2 linked regions of the Homo sapiens genome follow. The protein of the gene in region 1 interacts with the protein of each later gene in a pairwise test. Each region holds a gene or a part of one and is shown on either strand. Other genes may lie near its edges.

Region 1 (3,170 bases):
CCCGGCCCTGGGTGGGAGCTGGTCCTGTCCCTAGGGGTGGCCCCTGGAGGGTGGGTGGAGTTCCAGCCTTGCCCCAGGGCTCTGGACGGAGTCTGGGCCTCCCACCCTCAGGACCCCCTTCCCTGCGGACCTGCAGGTCTGAGTAGCGACAGTGGCCTTGGGGGCAGCTCGGATGGCAGCTCGGACGTCCTGGCTTTCGGCTCGGGCTCTGTGGTGGACAGCGTCACTGAGGAGGGTGGGTGGCGTCTTGCCCTCGCCCGAGGCCCCTGCCCAGCCCCTGGGCAGCCCCGGGGGTTGCTTTCCCTGACCGCCCCCTCCCCACAGAGGGTGCAGAGTCGGAGGAGTCCAGCGGTGAGGCAGACGGGGACACTGAGGCCGAGGCCTGGGGCCTGGCGGACGTGCGCGAGCTGCACCCGGGGCTCTTGGCGCACCGCGCAGCGCGTGCCCGCGACCTTCCTGCGCTGGCGGCGGCGCTGGCCCACGGGGCCGAGGTCAACTGGGCGGACGCGGAGGATGAGGGCAAGACGCCGCTGGTGCAGGCCGTGCTAGGGGTGAGCGAGCCACGGGGGCTGCGCGCAGGACACAGGTGCACAGTCGCGTTTGCATCTTCTGTGGCGCCCACACAAGGGTCGCCTGTCCGCGGTGGGGACCACGTTCGGTCCCGGCTGGGGGCGCCCAAGGCCGGGGTCAGGGTGCAGAGGCGCGGAGAGGGGCCGGTGCCGTGGCTCCGTCTGAGTTGCCCCGGCTCCCCAGGGCTCCTTGATCGTCTGTGAGTTCCTGCTGCAAAACGGAGCGGACGTGAACCAAAGAGACAGCCGGGGCCGGGCGCCCCTGCACCACGCCACGCTGCTGGGCCGCACCGGGTGAGACGCGCAACCCACGCCCCGCCCTGTGCCCCGACCACGCCTACCCCGGCCCGGCTACGCCCTGTCCGCCATGCCCTATCCGGCCACGCCCCCGCGACCACACTCGCCCCGCCCCGCCCCGCCCCGACACGCCCCTCCGACCTCGCCCCTCAGCCAGGTTTGCCTGTTCCTGAAGCGGGGCGCGGACCAGCACGCCCTGGACCAAGAGCAGCGGGACCCGTTGGCCATCGCAGTGCAGGCGGCCAACGCTGACATCGTGACACTGTGAGCGCGGCCGGGCCCTCGGGGCTGGGCGGGGCCTCCAGGGCAGGGGCGGGGCCTCCAGGGCAGGGGCGGGGCCTCCAGGGCAGGGGCGTCTCACGCTGTGCCTCCCCGTAGGCTCCGTCTGGCGCGCATGGCGGAGGAAATGCGCGAGGCCGAGGCTGCCCCTGGTCCCCCGGGCGCCCTGGCGGGCAGCCCCACGGAGCTCCAGTTCCGCAGGTGTATCCAGGAGTTCATCAGCCTCCACCTGGAAGAGAGCTAGGGCCGGGCAGGCCGGGCAGCTGCCACCCCGCCCGGCCCGACGCCCCGCATGCCCCGAAGTCCCTGGCGCCCACCCGGCCGCGGCCCTGCGTGTGACCCGCGGGTCGATACCTGGCAGCCCCAGTGCTGGGGCGCCGCGGCCCTGCTCGCCCAGGAGGAGAGCGAGGGCCCCACACTGAGTCTCTTGAAGCCTCACGTTTCCCTGGGGGGGTGCTGCATCGTCGGGTGTCCCTCACCCCACCTGGGGAACCTCTGTCTTCAGGTCACCCCTTTTCAGGGGCCTGGGTTGCTCATGTCACAAGCCACTTTTAAGGCCCGTGTCACCTGTGTCCCTGTGTCCTCAGGGCCTGTGTTACTTCGTGCCCCACTTCTGCCCAGAACACTGACCTGTTAGCTGGCTCCCTCCTGCACACCCCAGAGCCTCCTCCCAGGGCAGAAAGGGTGGCCCATCCAGGGAACCAACGAGTACCTCACTTAGTGACCCCAGCATCCAGGCTGGCGTCGCGGGTGCTGGGCGGGAGGGGCTCTGGCCTGGGTCCTCAGCCCTGGCTGGACGCGGGCGTCCCAAGGCCACGTGGCTGGCCACGAAGGTCCCCGTGCCAGACAGCCCCAGCCGCATCCCGGCCTCCTCCGGAGGCACCTTCTCCTGGTACTCGGCCCAGAGCCTGCGCATAAAGCCACTTTGCCACTTTGCAGCCCTCATCTCATGTTCTTTGTAGCGGACCGAGTGGGTTTGCTATAGGCCTCGTCTGACTTTGTCTTGCGTCTTTTCTCTGTGGACTCTTGAGGACGCCTGAGCCCCAGCCCTGCCCCTGACCAGCCTCCCCCTTGGGTCCAGGGGTCTTTCGGCTCATATTGCAGGGCCTGCCAATGCCTTCACGCACCCCTTCCCCAAAGGTGCCCGGCAGGGAGGCAGGGCCTCCCCCACTCAGCGCAGGTCAGGCTAAGGCCAGTCGGCTGGTCACTATGCAATGCTGCCCTGGGGAGGCTCCCTGAGGGCACAGTGGGCGCTGGACCCGGCCCCCCAACTCTCTTGCCTGCTGCCTGTGACCCTGAAGAACAGAATTGATTCTTGCCCCTCTCCCTGTGTGAGCTTGGCCCCGCCTCTTGCCCCAGGCCCCTGCTGGCGGGTCTCACCCCCCACCCCTCGCTTTGAATAAAGCACTTGCGCCCACTGCCTGCTCCTGGGCTCCCGTGCCTTGCTCTGCTCTGTCTCCGGGGAGTGTCTGTGTCCCTTGCCCTCCCCGAGGGGCATTCCTGAGCCGGGTAGCACTCACTCAAGTCAGACTCCAACAGGCCGCAAGGGGCCTGATGGGGACCTGGGGCTCGTTTGACAAAATCTGGGTCCTGATGCCCCTGGTCCCCATTGTCTCGCCCTTCTACCCTTCTCTGTCCTAGACTGAGTTTCCTGGTGGGAAGAGGGGTGGACGCGAACCGGCGAGGCTAGGCTGGGGCTCGTCCCGCCAGGTGCAGTCAGGGTTTCAGCTCACCGGGCGCGGGGCGGCTGGAGGGGCACACAGGCACACACTGGCCGCCAGGTGGAGTCAACAGCTTTATTTCAGAGCAGCCCAAGTGTGTCCGTGGGGCCTGCCTTGCCTTCTGCCTCCCTGCAGCTGAGGTGGCTAGGCTTGACACACGTACACAGGTGCATCAGACGTGTGGACATGCAGACACAGACACACGGAGCATGGGTACATCACCGCGTGTCGGCACGTCCAGCCGCACTCGTGTGCACGCGGGAACCCCCCTCCGCCCCGGGCCTCCTTGAGACCCACCCCAGGC
Region 2 (3,650 bases), on another chromosome or scaffold:
TTTATCAAGTGCTTTCTCAGCATTAATTGAAATGATTATATGATTTTTGTTCTTTATTCTGTTGATATAATTTATCACATTGATTGATTCACACATGTTGAACCATCCTTGCATCCCTGGGATAAATCCCACTTGGTCATGATGAATGACTGTTTTAATGTATTGTTGAATTTGCTTTACTAGTATTTTGTTGAGGATTTTTGCATCAGTATTCATTAGAGATATTGGCCTGTAGTTTTCTTTCTTTGATGCGTCTTTGTTAGTTTTGGTATCAGAGTAATACTGGCCTCATAGAGTGAGTTCGGAAGTATTCTCTCCTCTATTTTTGGGAACAGTTTGAATAGGATTAGAATGCTTCCTTAAATGTTTGGTAGAATTCAGCCATCAGGTCCTGGGCTTTTCTTTTCTTTATTTTATTTTATTTTATTTTTTAAGACACAGTCTCACACTGTCGCCCAGCCTGGAGTACAGTGGCGCGATCTTGGCTCACTGCAAGCTCCACCTTCTGAGTTCACGCCATTCTCCTTCCTCAGCCTCCCAAGTAGCTGGGACTACAGGTGCCCGCCACAATGCCCGGCTAATTTTTTGCATTTTTAGTAGAGACAGGGGTTTCACTGTGTTAGTCAGGATGGTCTTGATCTCCTGACCTCGTGATCCGCCTGTCTCGGCCTCCCAAAGTGCTGGGATTACAGGCATGAGCCACCACGAGGTCCTGGGCTTTTCTTTATGGGGAGGAAAAGAACTTTAGAATTCAGTAAAGTTGCAGGATACAAAATCAACATACAAAAATCAGTAGTATTTTATTATGACTTTGATCTTGTTACTTGTTATTGGTCTGTCTAGGTTTCAAATTTCTTCATGGATCAATCTTGGTGTTTTATATGTGTCTAGGAATTTATCCATTTCCTTTGGATTTTCCAATTTATTGGCATATAGTTGCTCATAGTAGCCGCAAATGATCCTTTGAATTTCTGTGGTATCAGTTGTAATGTCTCCTTTTTCATCTCTAATTTTATTTTATTATTTATTTATTTTTTTGAGATGTGGTCTGTCACCTAGGCTGGAGTGCAGTGGTGCAGTCGTGATGCACTGCAACCTCTGTCTCCCCTGGCTCAAGCAATCCTCCCACCTCAGCCTCCCAGGTAGCTGGGACCACAGGCATGCACCACCACACCTGGCTAATTTTTTATATTTTTGGTAGAGATGAGGTTTCACCATGTTGCCCAGGCTGGTCTCAAACTCCTGAGCTCAAGTGCCTGCCTCACCCTCCCAAAGTGCTAGGATTATAGGCATGAGCTACCTTGTCCAGCTGCCTCTGATTTTATTTATTTGGATCTTCTCTCTTTTTTCTTTTTTTTTTTTTTAGTATTTATTGATCATTCTTGGGTGTTTCTCGGAGAGGGGGATTTGGCAGGGTCATAGGACAATAGTGGAGGGAAGGTCCTCTCTTTTTCTTAGTCTGACTAAAGGTTTGTCAACTTTGTGTATCTTTTAAAAAAACCCAACTTTTTGTTTGAGTGACCTTATGTATTTTCATTTCAATTTCATTTATTTCTGCTCTAATCTTTATTATTTATTTTCTTCTACTAAGTTTTTTTTTTTTCCTTTTAAACAGAGTCTTGCTCTGTCATGCAGGCCGGAGCACAGGGACATGATTATAGTTCACTACAGCCTCAACCTCCTGGTGCCCAAGTGATCTTTCTACCTCAGACTCCTGAGTAGCTGGGACTACAGGTGTGCACCACCACGCCTGGCTAAGTTTTGTATTTTTTATAGCGATGAGGTTTTGCCATGTTGCCAAGGCTGGTCTCAAATTACTGGGCTCAAGCAATCTGCCGGCCTCAGCCTCTCAAATTGCTGGCCTCTTCTACTAATTTTGGGTTTGGTTTGCTCTTGCTTTTCTAATTCTTTAAGATGTGTTATTAGGTTACGTATTTGAAGTTTTTCCTCTTTTTTTGATGTAGGCATTTATAGCCGTAAGTTTCTGTCTTAGTACTGCTTTCACTGTATCTCATAGCTTTTGGTGTGTTGTGTTTCCATTATCATTTGTTTCATGAAATTTCTCAATTTCCTTAATTTCTTCATTGACCTATTGGTCATTCAGGAGCATATTGCTTAATTTCCATGTGTTTGTATAGTTTCCAAAATTCTTCTTGTTATTGATTTCTAGTTTACTTGTGGTCAGAGAAGATACTTGGTATCATTTCAGGGTTTTTGTTTTTTTTTTTTTGAGACAGGGTCTTGCTCTGTCTGAAGTGCAGTGGCATGATCTCGGCTCACTGCAACTTCCACCTCCTGGGTTCAAGCGATTTTCCTGCCTCAGCCTCCCAAGTAGCTGGGACTACAGGTGCACGCCACCATGCCCAGCTAATTTTTGCATTTTCAGTAGAGATGGGGTTTCGCCATGTTTGCCAGGCTGATCTCAAACTCCTGACCTCAGGTGATCTGCCCACCTCAGCCTCCCAAAGGGTTGGGATTACAGGCGTGAGCCACCGCACCCAACCTTTTTAATGTTTTAAGACTTGTTTTGTGACTTAACATGTGTTCTATCCTTGAGAATCATCCATGTGATGAGAAGAATATGTATTCTGCAGCAGTTGGATGAAATGTTCTGTAAATATCTATTAGGTCCATTTGTTCTATATTGCAGATTAACTCCAATGTTTCTTTGTTGATTTTCTGTCTGCACGATCTGTCCAATGCTGAAAGTGGGGTGTTGAAGTCTCCAGCTATTATTGTATTGAGGTCTCTCTCTTTCCCTGTAATGTTTAATTTATATATCTGGGTGCACCAGCACTGGGTACATATTTATTTATAGTTGTTATAGCCTCTTGAAGAATTGACCCTTTTATTATTATATAATGACCTTTTTTGTCTCTTCTTACAGTTTTTGTCTTGAAATCTATTTTGTCTGATATTAGTATAACTACTTTTGTCCTTGTTTGGTTTTCATTGGCGTGGAATATCTTTGTCCATCCCTTTATTATTTTTGGTCTATGTGTCTCTTTATAGGTGAAGTGTGTTTCTTGTAGGAAACAGATTCACTGGGTCTTGCTTTTTAATCCATTCAGCCAGTCTGTGTCTTTGGATTGGAGAATTTAGTCTGTTTACATTCAATGTTATCAATAAGTAAGGACTTCTGCCATTTTGTTACTTGTTTTCTGGTTGTTTTGTGGTCTTCTCTTCCTTTTTACCTTCCTTCTTGTCTTTTGGTAAAGATGATTTTCTCTTGTGGCATATTTAATTTCTTGCTTTGTGTGTGTGTGTATCTGTTGTATGTTTTTTGACTTGAGGTTACCATGAGGCTTGCAAATACTGTCTTATAACCCACTATTTTAAACTGATGACAACAAAGATTGCATAAACATGCAAAAAAGAAAACTAATAAAAACTCTACACTTTAACTTTATCTCTCTGCTTTTTAACTTTTTGTTGTTTCTCTTTACATCTATTGTACTGTCTACGTCTTGAAAATTTATTTTTGATTGGCTTATCATTTAGTCTTTCTACATAAGAGCAGTTTACACACCACAATTATAGTGTTATAATATTCTATGTTTTTCTATGTGCTTACTATCACCAGTGAGTTTTGTACCTTTAGATGACTTTTTTTTTTTTTAGATGGAGTCTTGCTCTGGCACCAGGCTGGA

Evidence for each region. The genes of interacting proteins can lie anywhere in the genome.
Region 2: the proteins of ACAP3 (region 1) and SLC35G2 interact in a two-hybrid assay, tested with the Homo sapiens proteins (one large-scale study listed by IntAct).

What each region holds. Positions count from the first base shown.
Region 1 is NC_000001.11:1,291,783-1,294,952, reverse strand, and holds the end of ACAP3 (arf-GAP with coiled-coil, ANK repeat and PH domain-containing protein 3), read left to right. Parts: intron 1-136; coding exon 137-235; intron 236-324; coding exon 325-551; intron 552-753; coding exon 754-863; intron 864-1,019; coding exon 1,020-1,130; intron 1,131-1,244; coding exon 1,245-1,389; 3' UTR 1,390-2,562; downstream 2,563-3,170. UniProt on the Homo sapiens protein: GTPase-activating protein for the ADP ribosylation factor family.
Region 2 is NC_000003.12:136,825,623-136,829,272, forward strand, and holds part of SLC35G2 (solute carrier family 35 member G2), read left to right. Parts: intron 1-3,650.